Linked DNA regions of Homo sapiens. The protein of the gene in region 1 interacts with the protein of each later gene in a biochemical or structural test. Each region holds a gene or a part of one and is shown on either strand. Other genes may lie near its edges.

The links. The genes of interacting proteins can lie anywhere in the genome.
Region 2: the proteins of PML (region 1) and PIN1 form a complex in vitro, tested with the Homo sapiens proteins (2 studies listed by BioGRID and IntAct).
Region 3: of the proteins of PML (region 1) and UBE2I, one has a biochemical effect on the other in vitro, tested with the Homo sapiens proteins (13 studies listed by BioGRID, with this or other methods).
Region 4: the proteins of PML (region 1) and SP1 form a complex in vitro, tested with the Homo sapiens proteins (2 studies listed by BioGRID, with this or other methods).

What each region holds. Positions count from the first base shown.
Region 1 is NC_000015.10:74,035,220-74,040,518, reverse strand, and holds part of PML (protein PML), read right to left. Parts: coding exon of another isoform or gene 4,568-5,299; exon of another isoform or gene 4,513-4,567; coding exon of another isoform or gene 4,459-4,512; exon of another isoform or gene 4,125-4,458; intron 1-4,124.
Region 2 is NC_000019.10:9,837,688-9,842,986, reverse strand, and holds part of PIN1 (peptidyl-prolyl cis-trans isomerase NIMA-interacting 1), read right to left. Parts: intron 4,976-5,299; coding exon of another isoform or gene 4,912-4,975; intron 4,552-4,911; coding exon 4,339-4,551; intron 1-4,338. UniProt on the Homo sapiens protein: Peptidyl-prolyl cis/trans isomerase (PPIase) that binds to and isomerizes specific phosphorylated Ser/Thr-Pro (pSer/Thr-Pro) motifs.
Region 3 is NC_000016.10:1,319,006-1,324,304, reverse strand, and holds part of UBE2I (SUMO-conjugating enzyme UBC9), read right to left. Parts: intron 4,132-5,299; coding exon 4,022-4,131; intron 3,868-4,021; coding exon 3,788-3,867; coding exon of another isoform or gene 3,646-3,787; exon of another isoform or gene 1-3,645. UniProt on the Homo sapiens protein: Accepts the ubiquitin-like proteins SUMO1, SUMO2, SUMO3, SUMO4 and SUMO1P1/SUMO5 from the UBLE1A-UBLE1B E1 complex and catalyzes their covalent attachment to other proteins with the help of an E3 ligase such as RANBP2, CBX4 and ZNF451.
Region 4 is NC_000012.12:53,413,431-53,418,115, reverse strand, and holds the end of SP1 (transcription factor Sp1), read right to left. Parts: 3' UTR 1,670-4,685; downstream 1-1,669. UniProt on the Homo sapiens protein: Transcription factor that can activate or repress transcription in response to physiological and pathological stimuli.

The sequences.
Region 1 (5,299 bases):
TGCTCACTAGGGGAGACTCTCCCATTCTGCCCCCAGGCCCCACACCTTGGCCTTATTCCGCAAATTAGGATAACTGGGTGTCGGGGGAGCATAGAGAGGGACAGTCACTGGAAAAGACTTAGATTTGCTTGGAAGAGAAAAGGAAGGGGGACAGAAGAAAGAAGATGGGAAACAGAGCCTTGAGCCTGCGTGTGAGGACCGGGAATCAAGGGGGAAAGCTTTGCTATGCAGTGAGAGATGCCAGGCGCCAAAGAAAAGGGGAAGAAGGACTGAAGAAGTGCTGCTGGGGTTATGAGCTGGATTCCCTTTAATGTTCTTTCAAAAGATGCAAGTAAATACTGGGATTTATTTCTTTATTATACTTGGTTAATGGACATTGTTTCTTTGAATGCAAAACTGTGTTCAGGCTGAGCCTCGTGAGAGCCAGGATTTTTTCAGGATATACATGCAACTTGGATACACCTGCAATCTGGCTCATGAGCTACATCCATCTCACTCCCCTTCCTCATAGATTTCACGGCCTGAGCAGGTCAAGTGCATTCTAACTCAACACAGCAGGTCTAACAGTCGTCCCAAGCATGCTCAGAGGAAGTGGCTGGATTGGCATTGTAATCACACTCCAAAAGTCCAGGAGGTACATCAGGGAAGATCCAGCCTCTCCCCTCCTCTGCGGTATTACACCCTGGTATGAAAATGTCACCTGCATTCAAGACTGCCACATCTATAAACAAATGAGCAGCATTCCTCTACCACAGACATGCAATGAATCCCCCGATTCAGTGGTTCTTGACTTTGGTTAGGCATTCATAGCTTTAAGAAAAAACTGAGGCCCAGGCTGCACCCAAGACTGATTCGATTAGAATCTCAGGGCGTAGGACCTAGGAATCTGTAGTTGGGAAAACTCCCCAGTGTACAGCCAGCTTGAGAACAATTGTCCTTATCACTGATTCATTCCAGGTTTGCTCATCAGCCAAACACAAGCCAAACTCTGATAGTCAGCATCCAGCCTCTGGAAGATACAGAACATCTGACATTCATGCTTATCAAGAGCCCTCAAGCTCCTGAAGAACTTTCTGAGCACTTAAGCATCAGCTACAGCTGGGATCAGTTTGGCAAGACACATGCATTGCTATCTTTCTGCAGACACAAAACCCCAGCTCTTGCAAAGCCTCAAAGACCCCAGGAATACTGCACATGTTATGAGTGAACTGGACCATAAACTCGGCCAGCCTGTGGCCTCTGCTGCCCTTCTGCCTAGCTCCAGCCTCTTGGCCAGCACCTCCGTTTCATTTTCTCAGATGCACACTCACCAGTGCCACGGCCCCTCCCCTGGATCAGCCATTCCCCACAGGCCTCCCTTCCTCCGCCGTCACCACTGCCACTTCTGCCACAGGCTGCCCCCTCACCTTGGCCCCCTCCTGTTGCTGCTGCCACCAAGGCACCGGAGCCAGTAATCTGTCACAAGAGTGGGTGAAAACACCTATCTTTTCCACTTTGGATCCTAAAGCAGGGGCCCCAGGGCAGGCGCACTGCTGACCCACTCTGGCAGTTTTTAAGCAAAGTCCTCACCCCAGGTACTCCACAACCAGGCCTGGGGGACTCACTGCTCCACCCCATGACTATGCCCTGCTGCCTCTCGCTCCTTCTTGCACAAACAGTCTCTCACTGAATCCCTAGGACACAGGTGAAGCTCAAGGGAGGGGTTCCTAAATGCCCTGATACACTTGGAAAGTAGTAATGTAGCAGACCAGTATTCTGCAACTTTCCTCACTGCAAAGCTGGATATAAGCTGCAGAGCTGGGGAGGATGGGTTAGGTGGGAGCCGGGATCACCTTGGGAATATCACCCCACCCCCTCCAAGCTGGGGAGTAGGAATTTGCAGTGGTGGTGCTGGGTGTACTCTGGGGGCACCAGGGGTCTGGAAAGGGCCCAGAAGTTGGGTGAGAAATGCATAGGGGGGACCTAATTTGTTGGGGTTTTAAAATATATATTTTCTAAAGTTTGGGACTCCTATAACAATTTTTAAAACCTGTGTCTTAAAGCTACATACACAAAAGCAGCGGTCCTCTGGCTCTCTCCCCACGTCTCTAGGCCTGCTCTCTAATGTGAGCTCCTAGGTATTTAATTCATCATCACCTGAAATGTGCTTTTACCCCCTCCCTTAATTCACTGTATAGCCCCTAATGACTCCTTGCTGATAGCTGAGCATTACATACTCCCCGCCCCACCCCCAATATTGCTGGGGTCCCTCTACTTGATTCTCCATGACATCTGGGGACACTGTTGGCACTCCAAACCTGTTCTCCACCTTTCCTTCCCAGGCTTCTGCCTCTACCCAGGGTCAGTGGTAGCTTTAATTTTACCAAGATTATGGGATGGAAAGAAGTGCCCAGATTTCAGAGGAATTTACACCCTAGAAAGACAAGACTCAATAACTGGTTGGATGTGAGGAATAATCAAAAGGGGGGTGCCCTGGGTGGCTATGGGGTCTTGGCTTGTGCAACCGGGCAGAGAGTGGGGCGAGCCAGTGAGACGGGAGGAGAAGGTGCTGAGTTTGAGGTACCTATGGGCATCCATGCGGAGCTGTTGGAAGGTCACTGGCCATGCTGGTCTGGCAGGCAGGTGCGAGTGTTGGGTATCAGCTACCCCTGGGCAGTAACTGAAGTCAGGGGCGTGGCTGAGAGCACCTGGGAGAATACACAGACTGAAAAGAGGAAAGGGCCCAGCAGCAAACCTGCAGGAGCACCACAACCAAGAAAAAACAGAGCCTGCAGAGGAGAGGGAGGAGTGCCCAGAGCTGCATCCGAGCAGGCGATCTTTCCAGGAAAGACCGGGCCCAGCGCCGGTCAAGAATAATAACGACTAAACGCGACACTGCACCTAGAGGCACAGAGGCCACCCTGGTACTGGCGGGGAAGCGCAGGAGGTGGGGTGAAGAAGGGGCAAGGAGGGGGCTGAAGTGTAAACAAGGAGAGCAGAGGAAGGGGAGCCGACAGCTGGAGAGAGAAGTGGGTGGAGTTTTCTGAGATGAGAAAGACCTCATTCAGGGTGTTTAGTTCAGAAGGCAGTGGATACATTAGAAGATGCAAGAGAGATGAGGAGGAGGAGTGAGGCTCCCAGGGGGTCAAGGGCTGGGGCCAGGACACAGGGTGAGTCCTGGAGGCAGGTGGACATCCCTTCCACCCTAACGAGGGCAGGGAAGGGGTGCGATGGGGATCTGTAAATAGCAAGATGTCAACTGTCCCTATGCCATTGGAGAGCTCCTGTTTTCTCCCTGGAGCAGAAGGTGCCGCCATCAGCTGAGGGTGAGGCTGGGACAAGGGCCCAGTGAAGAAAGGCAGGCGGGGGCTGCCCTGCAGAGCAAAAGGACATGCTGGGCGGAGCACCAAGGAGCCCTTAGCAGTCACAGGCAACCACTCATAGTTTTCCCAGGCCTTTCTCCTGCAGATCTCGGTCTCCAGGTGGCAGCACAGAGGCGACAAGCTCCTGAGTCCTTCCAGGATTTTCTGCTGGGCAGGGAGCTGCAATTCTGATGAAAGATGGGATGAAATGGGGAGTGCGCGGGGCTGGAGGGAGGCGAAGGTAGGACTGAGAGCTCAAGGAACAGGAGGCTGCGGTCAGAGTCTGAGAGGACCGGCTGAGGGACCGACAGTGCTCGGTGATGGCAAGGTGCAGGGCACGGCCACGGGGCAGGCAGCTGTCTGGGGGAATGGGGTGACAACCCCTGAGAGGTTAAGGAGTGGCGGGCAGGTGGGTGGAAATAGAAGTCACTCAGGAGGAAGGCAGGACCTGAGCAGGGAGAAGAAATCTGGGAGGTGAATGCTCACGTCTGCCCTCAATGAGGGTGGGCAGGTGGGTGTCTGGGATGAGCTGGGGAGCATGGGGCCCACCCTGAGAGGGACAGAGGATCTTACCAGACGGCCAGGAAGGGGCTGGAACAGTCCAGGAAGCAGGGGGCCTTGACCCTACCTCCCACCTCTGATGCCCATGAGTGTGGGAGGAAGAGGGGACATGGTATCCCCAGAGGAGAACTGAGTTCCAGCATAGGGAAGAGAGAACAGCCTGCAGGGAGGAGCTGGATCCATCGGAGAACGCGATGGTCGTGGAATAAGGGTTCGCAAGGGTGATGGTTCAACAAGTGTTTATTGAGCAGCCACATCTGCCAGGTCTTGGGATAGCCAGTCCCTGTGCTCATGGGCTTAGATCCTGGCAGAGGCCTAGTGGAGAGGCTTGGGGTGGGGGTCGGGGCATGGAAGGCTGTGCTATTGGCCAGGGACTCAGAATACAGGAGAGTGCAAGGGTGACAGAAGTTTCTTTCTTGGGCAAAGAGGCCTGGAATGGTGGCTTGAATCTCAGCCATGCCTTAGCCTTCCCCTCTCAGCCAGAGAAGACCCAGGTCTCCCTGCCCAGAGGTCCATGCATAGCCATTCATTCGTTGATTCATTCCTTAACCAAGAATTAATGAGTGCTACTCTGTGCAGGGCCTGTAAGAGCATGGGCTGGAGGAGGCAGCTCAGGGGCCGGGCAGGGGTGTTGGCTGCAAGGTTACAAGAGAAGGGTAGCACTCTCAGAGGCCTGCTTGACGGGCGCCTGGGACTGGGCTGATGGGGGGCCTTTCTGGGGCACAGGGTGGTGGGAATGTAATTGGAGAGGCTTCCAGAGGCACTTGGACTTGAGAGGCCTCCATGGAGCCTCTGACAGAGTCCCCAGGGGGAACACCTGCTCCAAGAGTCTGGGCTCTGCTTTCCCCTGCCCCCACCACGGAAGACATGTCAAGCTGGGAAGCCATGGAGGAGAAGGGGAGGGCAAAAAAGTTGTTGAGCCACTGGGATAAATGGGAGGAGCCCCGGAGGGAGCGGCTGCGGGATCGCACAGCCCCTCGTATCCGGTGGGGTGGGCTGATGCCCCTTTGCAGCTGGGCAGGATGTTCCTGGGCATTGGCAGGATGGTTGAGGGGCCCTGTGATGGCAGGAGTGCTGGCTTGGACCACATGGGGAGACCAAGTCCGAATAGGGGCCCGATGCAATTGAGGGTGCAAGCGGAGGGCATGGCGAAGGCGGATGGCTCTCTGTGCTCTGTACAACAGGTAGCGGATCCCACGGTGGACGGCAGGGCGCTCCTGGTGATCAGGAGGCTCGCTGTGAGGCTCAGCATCGGGGGTGGCAGCCTGCTCAGCGGGCTGGTGGGGAGGCCAAGCTGGGGGGTGGTATGTGCCACAGGGCAGGCTGGAGGCTCCTTGTGCTCTCAGCAGAGACTGGACTGGCGAGGAGTGGGCTGGCGAGGAGTGGGCTGGCGAGGA
Region 2 (5,299 bases), on another chromosome or scaffold:
GAGCCTCAGCAGAAAATGTGGAGGTCCCGGCTCTCTCTGCAGGCAGCCTGTCCCTTCGGGGCAAGGGCGGAGCACCAGATCTAAATGGGCACTGATGAGATTTAGCCCGGCTGCCAGCTGGGGAGTGAGCTGCCCAAATCATGGTCTCCTGATCACCCGGCATGAACCCTCGAGGGGAGAACATCCACTTCATGGAAGAGAAAATGAGGCCCAGGTGCCCAATGCCTGCGCCGACACTGCACATGATGATCTGTTACCGAGTGTACCTCGGCCGGGGCCACCTCACTGCATCCTCCTATCGACCTCTGAGGAGATCTGCCCCAGCACCGTCTCAGGCAGGAGGATACCAGGAGAGGGAGGTCGTGTGCCAAGGTCATCATCTGTGTGCTGAGCCCACCAGGCCTCCTGTGGTCCTATCCGGAACTCTTTCTACGGGCTGTGGGGTGGCAGCAGGGGCTGCCCGTGAGCAGAGGCCTTGACTTGACCTCAGCTCCCCCATCGTCCACACCCCAATGACTGGGGCTGAGGCTCCACCGTGCAGAGCACGCCAGCCACTGAGCCCATAGCTCCTGGATCCTCATAGCCACCCTCTCCCCATTCTACAGATGAGGCAACTGAGGCTCAGGAAATGAAGACCACACAGCTGGCACTGAAATCCAGCCCTGTACGAGCCCAGGGTGGGCCACGCTGTTCTGCCCTGACCCTCCCCCAGACATCCCACCCTTGCCCACCTAATCCATCACCCAGTCCTCTCTATCCTGCCTCCTGAATCTCTCTCGGGTCTGCTCCCTCTCACTTCTTCTTCCACTTCCAGCCCCCAAGTTCAAGTCACACCGCCTCTTGCTCCAATTCCTCCCACAGCTTCCACCAGGTGGGCAGGCAAGGCTCCTGCTGACATTCCAGAATCTGCAGGTACCTACGGTGACGCCTCAGGGCCTGGCTACTTACCAGGTGCACCTGTCCAACCCAGAGATGGGCGAGACACCCTCGCCCACCACACCCAGACCCATGCCCTCCTCACTATCCCCACCGACCTCAGCCTTCTGCCAGCTCTCATCAGGATTGCTTGGAGCAGCTCTGTCCTGCGCCTGGCTGCTCTGCTGACCCCCAGGAGCCCACTTCATGCCGCTCCATCCCCAAATGCCTGCACCCTCCTGCTCACTCTTATAGGGTCCGGAAGCCTCAGAACAGAGACCACTAGAGCTGGGAGGACCTGAAGGGTCATCTTGCAATTCTCTCCTGGCTTCTCCCTCCACTTCTTCTTCTTGCTCTGGGGCAACCAGAACCCCTGAAGGTTCTGGGCCTTCCACTTCCCTGGCCCTTGACATTCTAGCTTCACAGATCTCTGCTGAAAGCAGAGCACTGTGGGTTCCTCTCCTGGTCCCACATGGCCACATATGTCCTGCTGCCTCCAGGAAAGAACCAAACCTCCTCACCTGACAAGGACCCTCCTCAACCTGGCTGGGACCTGCCCGTGAAGGGTCTCATCACCCCCTAGCTCCCTGCAAAGCCTTCCCCAGAGTTCTGGCTACATCCTAGTCCTAGGCCTTTACTTCTGCCCCGTCCTGTGCCAGGAATCCTTCTTGCTTCCTACTGGCTCATGAAACAAGGCTGTGAGGGCTGACTCTGGGCCAGGCTTTGTGTGGCAGGATGGGAATACAGGGGAAAGAGAGAGATCCAGTCCCTGCCCTCAGAGGTCAGGAGGCTGGCTCTTCAATCAGCCTTCAAGATTCTGTGCAAGAACTCGGCTTCTCTCTGCCATGCTTACATATAAGACTAACGGGTGGCACTTACTGTCCTAGATGCCATGTTGGGGGTGTGCATATGTAATAACATCCTACAGGCCAACTGGACCAAGTGATGAGAGAGTAAAACAACAGCCAATACTGACCGAGTGTACACTCTGTGCTGGGCCCTGTGCTACCACAACCAACAACAGCAATGACAGTGACCACTAACAATGACAGAACATTTACCGATGCCAGGAGCTGTTACTCCCGCTTTACTGTATTAGCCAGGAGTCCTCACAACTACCCTGTGAAGTGGGTCTTATTATTCTAATACTAATTTTATAAATGAAAAAGACTGACAGCTGGGGGCGGTGGTTCATGCTTGTCATCCCAACACTTCGGGAGGCTGAGGTGGAAGGATCACTTGAGGCCAGGAGTTTGAGACCATCCTAGGCAACATGGTGAAGTCCTGTCTCTACTAAAAATACAAAAATCAGCCAGGTGTGGTGTTATGAGCCTGCAGTCCCAGCTACTTGGGAGGCTGAGGTGGGAGGATCACCTGATCCCAAGGAGGTTGAGGCTGCAGTGAGCTATGAACACTGCACTCCAGCCTGGGTGACAGAGCAAGACCCTGTCTCAAAAGAAGAAGGAGAAAAAGATTGAAGCCCAGAGATGTTAAGTAACTTGCTCAAGAGCACATAGCCAGGACGTGGCAGAGCTGCATAGCAACCCAGGCTGTCTGGGCATGGTTGAGAGATGGGTTGTTTGGAGTAGGGACAGCCCAGGTTTGGGGACTCTGAGAAAGGCATCAGACACAACTTACTGCAAGAATGGAAAAGTGTTTTTTTTTGTTTTTGTTTTTGTTTTTTTGAGACGGAGTCTCGCTCTGTTGCCGAGGCTGGAGTGCAGTGGCACGATCTCAGCTCACTGCAAGCTCCACCTCCCGGGTTCATGCCATTCTCCTGCCTATCTCCCGAGTAGCTGGGACTACAGGTGCCCGCCACCATGCCAGACTAATTTTTTTGGATTTTCAGTAAAGACAGGGTTTCACCGTGTTAGCCAGGATGGTCTCGATCTCCTGACTTCGTGATCCACCCACCTTGGCCTCCCAAAGTGCTGGAATTACAGACGTGAGCCACCGCGCCCGGCCAAGAATGTAAATGTTTTATATTCCCGCTGTCAAAGATGGCAGCCACCAGCTAAAGTATGACCAGTGCAATTGAGAAACCAATTTTTGATATTATCTTATTTATTTTTGAGACAGGGTCTTGCTCTGTCACCCAGGCTGGAGTGCGGTAGTGTGATCTCGGCTCATTACAACCTCTGCCTCCTGGGCTCAAAGGATCCTCCCACCTCAGTCTTCTAAGTAGCTGACACTACAGGCGTGCACCACCATGTCCAGCTAATTTTTTTATTTTTTTAGAGACGGGGTTTTGCTATGTTGCCCAAGCTGGTCTCAAACTCCTGGGCTCAAGTGATCCTCCCGCACAGGGTGGGAGTGGCAGCCAAACTGGACAGCTTTAGACAGGGCTCTGCAAATGATGGCCTGCAGGCCAAATCCTCCCAGATTTTGTAAATAGTAAAGTTTTCTTGGCACACAGCCATGACCATGTGCTTGCTTACATATTAGTTATGAGTGCTATCCAGTTACAAAGCAGAGCTGATAGAGACTGCATGGCCCACAAAACCTAAAATATTTACCATCTGGCCTTTAAAGTTTGCCACCTTGGTGCCAGACTGCAGAGGAAACACAGAACAGAGCAGGGAATAGCTTCCTCCCTTAGGTCAGAATTAACTCACTATCTACTGGCACTCACTACCTCTTTTTTTTTTTTTTTTTTGAGATGGTGCCTCACTTTGCTGCCCAGGCTGGAGTGGAGTGGTGCGATCTCGGCTCACTGCAACCTCTGCCTCCCTGCCTCAGCCTCCCGAGTAGCTGGGATTACAGGCATGCGTCAACACATCTGGCTAATCTTTGTATTTTTAGTAGAGATGGAGTTTCACCATACTGCCCAGGCTAATCTTGAACTCCTGACCTCAGGTGATCTGCCCTCCAAGGCCTCCCAAAGTGCTGGGATTACAGGCGTGAGCCACCGCACCCTGCATGCACTCACTACCTTCCTGACTGCTCTCTCTGGATCCACCTATGTTTATGACTCAGGCCCCTAGTGGATGATATTACTATTGACAACACTTCCCACAGACTGAGGGCCTACTGTGCAAAATCCATTGCCTTATTCCCTTGAACCTTCACAATGGTCCTTAGAGGATGCCCATTTTACAGAGAAAGCTGAGTCTAGGGGAGGTGACACGAGTCCCCTCCCAAAGGTCACAGAGTTCACAGAGGCACAGCTACTACCTGAACCCATGTCTGCCAGCCCCCAGGCTGGGTCCTCTGCCCCTACCTGGCTCACCCTCAAATGCCAGATGGAAAAGAAAGAGAATGGCTGCTGTGAAGGTCAGGGTCAGGTCATGCACTGGCGTTTTTGTGTTGGCCAACACCACGCCTGGCAGCTGAGCAAGCTGGGGTGAAGGGTCTGATGTGACTTCTACAAAGGCTCACCTGGGAGAAGACCCCCTCCCAAGCCCCTGCCCTCGCCCTGCTCACCGTTGATCAGCTCCAGGGCCTCCTCCTTGGTCCGGGTGATCTTCTCCTGCCGCCAGGACGAGGGCCGCCGTGACTGGCTGTGCTTCACCAGCAGGTGCGAGCAGCGGACCCTGGCAGGCTCCCCCTGCCCGTTTTTGCCACCACTGCTGCTGTTGCCGCTGGGCCGCTCCCACTGGCTGGCGTTAGTGATGTGGTTGAAGTAGTACACTCGGCCTGGAGGGGAGGGCAGGCAGGAATTCAGCTAGGGTTGTGCTCCCAGGACACCCCTGGGCCCACAGCCAGAAGCCAGGGTGAGGGCCTGGCTTGCAGGGGGCGCCTTCATTCAACAAATCCATGGTGTATCCACCATGTGCCACAGGCTCTCCAGACGTGGGCCAATGTGGCAGGATACAGTCCCTGCCCTTAGAGAGCTAACATTCTAGGTGAGAGCAGACAGGTGCTAAACAAGCAAATGAAACACAGGATAGTATCAATCCCTGATAACTTCAAGGAGGAAAATAACCCAGAGTGATGGAACAGAGGAAGCTGGGGGACAGGGAGTGACTCAAACCATGCACTCAGCAGCCAGGCCACCTGGATTCAAATCTGAATCTGGGTTCAAATGTGATATATCTTCCCTGGGCCTTGGTGTTCTCACCTGCAAAATGGAGATAACAGTTCCTACCTTAGGGTCATTGAAAGGACTAAATAATAATTTTTAAACATTTTTAAAAGGGCTAAGCACGGTGGCTCTCACCTGTAATCCCAGCACTTTGGGAGGCCAAGGTGGGGTGGATCACCTGAGGTCAGGAGTTCAAGACCAGCCTGGCCAACACAGTGAAACCCCATCTCTACTAAAAATATAAAAAATTAGCCCGGCATGGTGGCAGGCACCTGTAATCCCAGCTACTGGGGAGGCTGAAGCAGGAGAATCGCTTGAACCCGGGAGATGGAGGTTGCAGTGAGCTGAGATTGTGCCACT
Region 3 (5,299 bases), on another chromosome or scaffold:
TCCTAATAAACTGAAAACACTGACTGCTTGCCACTGTTTTTGTTAATTCCCAAAAATAGACACCAATTTCTGGAGGGTTTTTCCATGAGGCTCTCAGCCGCAGGGGCAAAGGTGTGGGAAGGCAGGCCTGGTTGAGAAGGCGTTGTGCCCGAGCTGGGCAGTGCAGGGGCATCAGCGAACAGGTCTGGAGCTGGGTAGAGTGAGGCTCAGCCTGCAAGCAGCTGCCCAGGAGAGTGGCATGGCACACACTGCCCGGGCAAAACAGGTGGGCGGGAGGGCGGCCGAGGCTGCACCTAGGGGCTGATGGGTCACAGGGTGCAGTGTGACCCTGAGGATGGGGGAACACCATGACATTTATGGAGGTGGCTCCTGGGGTCGCAGTCCTGCCAGTCTCGCCAGGATTGGACCTGGTCTGAGACACTGAGCCTCACTCTGCATGGTGGAACAGCCCAGGACGGCAGCAGCGCCGGTGCCACCCCCACCCACGCCAAGGGCCTGGACCGCAGCCCAGACCCCAGCGCCCTCCTTGGGCCACCAGCCGGCCCCAGGGCAGAGCAGCTCAGCTGGGTGGGCGTGGAAGGAACCAGAGGCGGTGGCTACACGTCCCAGCTCTTCCTTGACCAAGCAGAGGCCCCGAGAAAAGGCACCTGCCAGGGCAGGAACACGGTCCAAGGCCTCCAGGAAACCCAGGAAAAACGATCTGAAACCCGCACACATGCTTCACAAAGGGTGCTTTTCAAGCGGATGTGTGTAGGAGAAAGAACGTTTGTTTACGTGCACGCAAGTGTACAGTGCAGCCCAGCAGGCACCAAGCCCAGGAGACGCTGGGGAGAGTCACACGGGGCGGGGGACTGCAACCCTGCCCAGCCCACGCCGCAGATGGGAGCCACAGCCCAGCTCTGGAGATGGTCGGCAAATGGGGTGCAGGCCAGACAGAGCTCACGCCCACACCATGCTGGGGATGGCAGACCATCTAAGGGCTAGGCAGGAAAACATTTGCCTTTTGTTTTGTTTTTTTGAGACAGAGTCTGGCTCTGTTGCCCAGGCTGGAGTGCAGTGGCGTGATCTCGGCTCACTGTAAGCTCCGCCTCCCAGGTTCAAGCCATTCTCCTGCCTCAGCCTCCCGAGTAGCTGGGGTTACAGGTGTGCGCCACCACGCCCGGCTAATTTTTTTTATTTTTACTAGAGATGGGGTTTCACCGTGTTAGCCAGGATGGTCTCAATCTCCTGACCTCGTGATCTGCCCACCTTGGCCTCCCAAAGTGCTGGGATTACAGGCGTGAGCCACCGCGCCCGGCATGCTTTTTTTTTTTTTTTTGAGACAGGGTCTCACTTTGTCACCCAGGCTGCAATCTTGGCTCACTGCAGCATCAACCACCTGGGCTCAAGCAGTCCTCCCACCTCAGCCTCCCAAATAGCTGGGACTACAGGCATGCACCATCATCCCCGGCTTAATTTTTTTTTTTTTTTTTTTTTTAAAGAGAGCAGGTCTTGCCATGTGGCCCAGGCTGGTCTCCAACTCCTGGGCTCAGGTAACGTCCCACAGTGGCCTTGCAAAGTGCTGGGATTACAGGCATGAGCCACCACCCCTGGCAAATTTTTTAATTTTTTGTAGAGATAGGGTCTCGCTATGTTGCCCAGTCTAGTCATGAACTCCTGAGTTCAAGCAATCAGCCCACCTTGGCCTCCCAAAGTGTTGAGATTACAGGTGTTGGGCCACCACACTTGGCCTAGAAATCATTTTCCAGGCACGGTGGCTCATGCCTATAATCCCGGCACTTTGGGAGGCGAGGCGGGTGGATCACCTGAGGTCAGAAGTTCGAGACCAGCCTGGCCAACGTGGTGAAACACTGTCTTTACTAAAAATACAAAAATTAGTCAGGTGTGGTGGTGGGTGCCTGTAATCCCAGCTACTTGGGAGGCTGAGGCAGGAGAATCACTTGAACCCAGGAGGCAGAGGTTGTAGTGAGCTGAGATCACACCACTGCACTCCAGCCTGGGCGACAGAGTGAGACTCTGTTTAAAAAAAAAAAAAAAAAAAAAAAAGAAAACATTTTCTGCCTCAAGGGCCATGTGGACACCCACGAGCACTGTGGCTTCCTGTCCAAGGGAATGCATTTCACGGACTCCTAGGGCACAGCAGGCCAGCACACAAACCCAGGTCACGCCACGTCCCACGAGCCACTTCCAGCAATGGCTTGGCTGACTGAGCGGCTATGAGTTTTTTTTTTTTTTTGAGACAGGGTCTCGCTTTGTCAAGCAGGCTGGATTGCGGTGCTGCAATCTCAACTCACTGCGCATCAACCTCCTGGGCTCAAGCAGTCCTCCCACCTCAGCCTCCCAAATAGCTGGGACTACAGGTGTGCACCACCATGCAGGGGAGCCAGGCTGAGCCTGGGGTGGCTGCTGTGATACTTGCTCCCTGCCTGGGGCCTCTGTGCCACCCTCGGCCACCAGGGAGGGCACCTTGCAGACACCTGGGCTGGGCCCGCATCCAGGGAGAAACACATCTCTCCAAAACCACGTGCTTTTTTTTTTTTTGAGACAGCATTCCTCCGTCGCCAGGCTGGAGAGCAGTGGCAGGATCTCGGCTCACTGCAACTTCCGCCTCCCGGGTTCAAGTGATTCTCCTGTCTCAGCCTCCCAGGTAGCTGGGATTAGAGGCACCCACCACTACGCCCAACTAATTTTTTGTATTTTTAGTAGGGACGAGGGTTTCGCCATGTTGGCCAGGCTGGTCTCGAACTCCTGACCGCATGATTCACCCACCTCGGCCTCCCAAAGTGCTGGGATTACAAGCGTGAGCCACTGCGCCCGGCCGAAACCAGGTGCTTTTCCTCACGACCTGTGCAGGCCGGGCCTAAGGCAACCGGGACCCCTCAGCCTCCCCCCTCCTGACCAGGAGATGCACCCTGGAGGGAGAGGGCCTCTGATGCCCACAGTGGCAGGGATGTGTGGGGTGGCTGCAGGTGAGCCTTCTGGGTCCCTGGCCATTGGGGGCCCTGAGACCCCCTCAGAGGTGTGGGGACCCGTGGTGAGATGGGGCTGGGTTTCTCAACGCTGCAGGCGGAGCAGTGGGGGGTCGGAGGCCCCAACCCACCTTCTTATGGACCTGCCCAGAACAGCTGCAGAGGGAACAGGACAGGCGGGCGCATGGCCTCTGCTCAGGGCAGGGTCCTCCCTGCTTTCCCCAGCACTGTTTGGCTGTCGTCTGCATCCTAACTCACACCAGGCCCTCCTCGGTGCAGACAGGACCCCAGGCCCACGGGGACCCTTCTAGCCACAGCAGCACCTCACAGGGACAGGGTGGAAGCCCAGGGTCCGTGTGACAGCATCACGTCACTGAGCCCTGCTGGGCTGGGCCCCCCCACAGAAGGAACCAAGTTGTAGAGGGGATGGGGACAAGCAGCAAGGGCGGCGCGGGAGGCTGGGGTCCATGGGAGGCTGAGCCGGTGGAGAGGCCTCTCAGCATGGCCTCCTCTGGCACCCACGCCCAGGGTCCTTCCCCTCCTAGCTGGCCACAACTCACTGGGGCAGTGGCCCAAGACAGCCCGTCACCTGGCCTGCTCCCTCCCCGGGACACGGCTCCGGCGCCATCCATGCCCACCGCAGACGGTGTGCAACGGTGCCTGCTGCCCACAGGGTTTATGCCCCCCGACCTTCCCCACAGAGGCGTGGACCCTGGCTGTCCGTAGGGTGAGCCTGTGTCCTCCACTCCCGTCCTGCCAGGCGGCCTTGGCTGGGACGGGGAGGAGCTGCCACCAGCGGGGCCAGGGCTGCTACTAACCAGTAAATCGTGTAGGCCTCTGCTTGAGCTGGGTCTTGGATATTTGGTTCATTTAGAAGTTCCTGTATTCCTAATAGGATCTGTGCCAGAGACAAAAACACAAGACGGGTGTGAGCAGTTTGAAAGGGAGACACCGTGAGACTCGGCCTCAGCCACAGAGAATGACCACAGACCCACGTGTCCGGAGGGGAGACTAAGGCAGCCCTGCCGGTGCCAGAGGCGGAGGCCCCGTACCTGTTTGATTGTGATGGCTGGCCTCCAGTCCTTGTCCTCCTCTAAGATGGACAGGCACACTGTCCCCGAAGGGTACACATTCGGGTGAAATAATGGTGGTTCGAATTTACCTGGAGGAAGAGGAAGAAAGGAAGCACTTTTTGGAGGCAGGCACTGTCCCAGAGTCACGTCCTTCCCCACATCACCCTCCTCCCAACACTGGGGCCCCGGGTTGGTAGCCAGGTTATTTGGCCAAAAACTTTTCAAAAAAATTAAATTGTGGCCATGAGGAGACTAAAGGAAGACATATCCACCTTTGCACACAGGGAACAGAGCCTTGGGGACACGGCCGCAGCCGAGACGAAGCTGTGTCTCTCCCAGGACAGAACTCCCAGCACAGCCAGGCAGTCTGGGAACACAGGCCCCAGGGTGGCCACTTAACCTGTGGCCCCCACATCCTTTCCAGCTGGGCCAGACTCAGGGGAGATGGGAGGAGCTGCAGGAGACGTCCAGGGACATAGCCAACGCCCTTCCAGAGTCGGCTGTTCCGACGCAGACCCTCTGCTTCCAGGATATACGGGCTTTTAGGACCCTGTGTTATTTCTTTACAAAAAAGCAGAAAAGTTTGCCACCATTAGCCCCACCAGGGACCATCACAGTTGATATTCTAGGCTATTTCCCATCTTTTACCTGGGCATCCTCCCTCTTCTCTCTCAATGCTACGGAAGGACACACAGTGCGGCATGTCTAGTGCAGCCGGAGGAATTACCAGAAAGCCAACGCGCCACGAACACCTACAGCTTCCCCGAACACTCGCTCCTACCGACCACTGCATCTGCCCCGTAATCCCAACTGCAACATCCGCAGGCAGCTTCCTGGACTTCAGGTACCATGGAGATGCACAGGGCACACTCCCTGGGGAACGCGAAGACACCACCGCAGACCGTCCCACACCGCGACCATCCCACACCGCAGGAGCACACGGGCGACACCAGCAGCTGCGTGGCTGTCCTGAGTGCGAACACGCGTGAGCGCGCTGCTGTGGAATGTGGGGTGACGGTGTTGGCCCTCAAGCCGTGCTGCTTCCAGGCTGCTCACGCAGGCTGCGTCGCTGGCGGATTCCAGCCACCGGGTGAGGTGCACGGCAGCCACTCCGTGGTGCTACGCTGCGCCTGCTGGTGACCGCTGAGCGCCCCTTTCGGCCCAGGCTGCTTCCTGGCGACTGCTTCGCAGAAGTTCCTCAAGCGATACGTCTTACAGGGCTCTTCTGCTTGGGGCTTGACTTTTTGCTTTTTTAAT
Region 4 (4,685 bases), on another chromosome or scaffold:
TGAGAGTGATGCCACTGCACTCCAGCTTGAGTGATAGAGCCAGACCTTGTCTCAAAACAAACAAACAAACAAACAAAAAAAACCAGTCCTGGCACGGTGGCTAACGCCTGTAATCCCTGCACTTTGGGAGGCCGAGGCGGGTGGATCAGCTGAGGTCAGTTCAAGATCAGCCTGGCCAACATCGTGAAACCCCGTCTCTATTAAAAATACAAAAATTAGCCGGGCATGGTGGCGCGTGCCTGTAATTCCAGCTACTTGGGAGGCGGAAACAAGAGAATTGCTTGAACCCAGGAGGTGGAGGTTGCAGTGAGCTGAGATCGTGCCACTGCACTCCAGCCTGAGTGACAGAGCAAGACTCCATCCCAAAAAACAAAAACAAAAAAAACAAACAAAAGCAAACCCACAAAGTAGCCTGAGGATTCAATAAAGGAAGAGAAAAATGAGTGTAAACTACTTTCACTAACTTTGGAAATGGAAAAAACTAATCAGTAGCTTGAAGAGGAAGCTGAGGTTTTTTAAAATGGGGGAAGGGGGAATACTTGAACATGTTTTTTTTTTTTTTGAGAGTCTCGCTTCGTTGCCCAGGCAATGTGTAATGGCGTGATCTTGGCTCACTGCAACCTCCGCCTCCCGGTTCAAGCAGTTCTCTTCCCTCAGCCTCCCAAGTAGCTGGGATTACAGGTACCTGCCCCCACGCCCGGCTACGTTTTTGTATTTTTAGTAGAGACAGTGTTTCACCATGTTGGCCAGCCTGGTCTCAAACTCCTGACCTCAAGTGATCCACCCAGCTAAGCCTCCCAAAGTGCTGGGATTACAGGGGTGAGACACCGCGCCCAGCCAGAACATGCTTATAGGCTGACAAAAGATAACAATGACTGTAGCTGGGAAAATCTGAGCAACAAAATAGTAATGGATTATAATCCATGTATAAAATAAATACACATTAATACATACTAATATAAATTGACTAAACAAATGAGGGAGAAGAGACAAACCTTTTTTTTTTTTGAGACGGAGTCTTGCTCTGTCGCCCAGGCTAGAGTGCAGTGGTGAAATCTCGGCTTACTGCAAGCTCCGCCTCCCGGGTTCACGCCATTCTCCAGCCTCAGCTCCCAAGTAGCTGGGACTACAGATGCCCGCCACCACGCCCATCTAATTTTTTGTATTTTTAGTAGACAGTTTCACCGTGTTAGCCAGGATGGTCTCGATCTCCTGACCTCGTGATCCACCCACCTCAGCCTCCCAAAGTGCTGGGATTACAAGCGTGAGCCACCACACCTGGCCACGATGTCAGTTTCTTAATTTTGACAATGTACCATGGTAATATGTTAACAATGAGGGAAACGGGTAAGGATTATATGGAAACTCTGTTCTAGCTTTACAACTTTTCTGTAAATCTAAAATTATTCCAAAATAAAAAAGCATATGAGAAAAAAAATAAAGTTAGTGTTGCCTGTTTGTCTTGGTCCTCCACATTTCCGTGTAGTTGTGGCACATTGATCTGGTCATGAAACCATTTACCCGGGAGTTAAATATAGGGCAATTGCACTAATTAACATGTATGGAGCACAACACAGTGTAGCTGGAAACCTTTGTTAGGTTCAGAGTATGAAGTTACAAACGTACACTCTCACCATTCCCAACCCTCTTCAATACACCAGAGACATGGTTTTTTATTAAAAAACTTTTTAATTGGTTTACAAAGGAGGCTACAGACTACATTGAAACTAATCTTTGTACAAAAGGCCAAAAAAAAAAAAAAAAAAGTCCCAAAACACCAAGAGACAAAAGGTAGGAGGAAAGACAAGAAAGGAAGATACAAAAGGAGCAGGAAGAAACTTACTTAGGGACAAGATTAGCATCATACATACCTAAGAGTGGGGGGTGAGGGGGAAGAACAAGATGAGAGAGCATTTAAAAGCATTTACCCACACAGCCCTGGTGATAATTGGATTGGAATCAAAACAAACACAGCATGAGATTATTAAGAGGTTTTAAAAGGCAACAGTGGTGTGGACTGGTTATTGCCAGTGTTAAGAGAGAAATAAACTTGGGTTTTTAGGCACCAGAGATTGGAGCACCACCCATCCCTTCCAGAGGATGACAGACTTAGGAAGGGGAAGCAGGCCCTGGGGCAGCTGCCACTGGTGTGTGTAGATGTCTCCTCAGGTCAATCTCAGTGTATCTTCCCCGAAGTCTTTGTGCCCTAGACTCTAGGTAAGGGCTATGGGATTTCACTGGGAGAAAGGGATGATCAAAAATATGAAGACCTGCCCTTGTCCACAATGTTCAAGAGCAGTTACCGGGAAACTGGAGCACTGGGTAGACAGAGCCCATATCCCTGGGGAAAAGGCACAGTGTAATTCCTGAAGGCAAGATATGGGAAAGCACACATCCCAGCAGAGGTATCAACAAAATCCTCACTACTTGCAGCCCTAGTCTAATCCCATTTGTTAGGCTTTTTTTTTTTTTTTTTCCCCTGATACTTAGCTAGGACTTAGGGCAGTTGAGAGGCAGATCATCATGCCTCTACTTTCTTAGCAGAGACAAGGAAGACTGGGGCTGTTTGATAATGAGGAAGGGGAAAATGGGACAAAATACTCCTCTTTCAAATGAACACTGTGGAGAAAATCTTTCTGGGTTTGGGGAAGTCAGAGTAAAGACTTAGGGGAGTAATAAAGCCAGAGACCCCCCTTCTTTTCCTTTCCCTGCCTTGGATCTAAGGCAAGTGAGCCAAATTTGGAAGAGGGAGTAGGAATTTAAGCTTAAGGCTGCTTAATGTCTTCCTGGGGGCTGGTGTTTTGGGAAGGCAGACAAAGAGAAACAGGTCAACCTCAAAGCTGGTCTGCTCATCCTCTTAGAAGAGGTCTGGTATCTGTGGAGTAGAGCCAAGAGAGGCACCACAGAGAGCACAGTCTCCCAAACAGAAGTAATAACCGGCTCATATTTTATCAGCAGTTTTCAAAAGCAATGTTTTCCGGGGTTGGAGAAGTGCCATATCTTCCTCCCTTTCCCCAAAGCTACTGCTGCGACCTTTCTTTCATCCTTGTACATAAGTTACTGGCTCTCTTCTAAGGGAGATAAATTCTGAGATTTCACATTTTCCCTCTCAACCCCAATAGGCTACCCAGCTTCAGTGAGGGGGAAGGAGAGCTATGCAAAGGGCCCCTCACTTGAGGCAGCTAGACTGTCCTTATTTCCTTGGTACCTGATCTCCAAAACTCTTGATCTGATCCCAAGGTCCAAAAGGCATCAGGGTACTTACACTGAAAACTTCAAGCAAGTAGCACCAGGGCTCCCCCTAAGCATAACAGGGGCCTGATTAGCACCCCAGAAGAACCCCTCAAAAAGTATATAAATTTATTGCGTCCTAGCAAAGATCTGCAGCTTCCAGTATTCACACAATGTGAAGATATTAACAATACAAAATATATTTTGAAAGTCAAACACCTGTAGTTCATAGTGCTTTTTTAGATTTGTTAAAAAAAATACAATGCTTAGTTTCCTATATAGGATATACAAAAGCAAAAAATATATATGTATATAGTAGAAATAAATCAGCCATAGTAATTTACAGCTTTTGTCTCCAACCCTCCCCTAATCATAATCTTTATCCCACACTTCAGTATATACTTTCTGGGATCAAAGGATCAATTTATTCTGAACCAGGCTGAGAAATATCCATTAAATTGCATTCTGTGTAGCACCCACAGAGTGCCAGTTGGAAATCCCTGAAGGAAGACGGTGTGGGTTGTTACTGTTCTGGGTAAAAAGTGAGACAGTCAAATGACATGTAAATGAATATAAATGGGCAACCTGAAAACCTGAAAGGATGAGGGAATAAGTGTTTTACTATCTCACCACTCTTCTGGGCATCCCCTGCCCTGCAAGTTTTGGTCATCTAAAAAATTTAAAAAACTCATTCAAAAAAATGAAAAAAACTTAGGAAAAAAATTTCAGAATCAATATGCATGTCAGTTAAATTAATTTCTGTTAGCCAAAAGTTCAGGGAAACGGGGTTTTTCTGTAATAAGCTCCTGACTCAAGGAATGTAGGCTCCAAACTTCCTGTGGAAGAGACTGAGTGGCTCACTACTGCTGGGAGACAAAAGAAGCTGCTTCTGTTTTGAGGCCAAACAAGATACTGGATCTGGAGCTTCCTTGGTGTGAAGAGAACAGGGCAAGTGGAAATAATTAGATATAAATTCACTCATGGTAATGCTAATGAATAGGGTTGAGGGTAAACCAGCAGCTTTTCATTCGAGAAAGAAATACCATCAAATTACCTTCTAAAAGCTTATATCCTCAGCATCATTACATTATTTTATATCTGGTAATTTCATACTGGAGAAGATTCCATTCCTTGAAATGCACTAGCAAAATACTGTACATTCCAGTGAGTTATCCTGCCCCTTTCCTCCAAAAGATGCCAAAGTACATGATTACAGACATAAAATAACAGGTTCTGAGTTCTGCCTTTCAGTGAGAATAAAGGGTATGATAGTGGCTGTGCATGGATGACTTGTATCTCAGCGTTAATAGAATTTGATCTGGGGAAAGTTCCTTGCCATAGTTCCTGAGTTGAAAACATAATTACATCTGTGGAGAAAGGACCAAATGGAGTGAACTATTGTTTAGAGTATTAAGTTACTATAGTTCAGATTAAACAACACACTTACCCAAAAC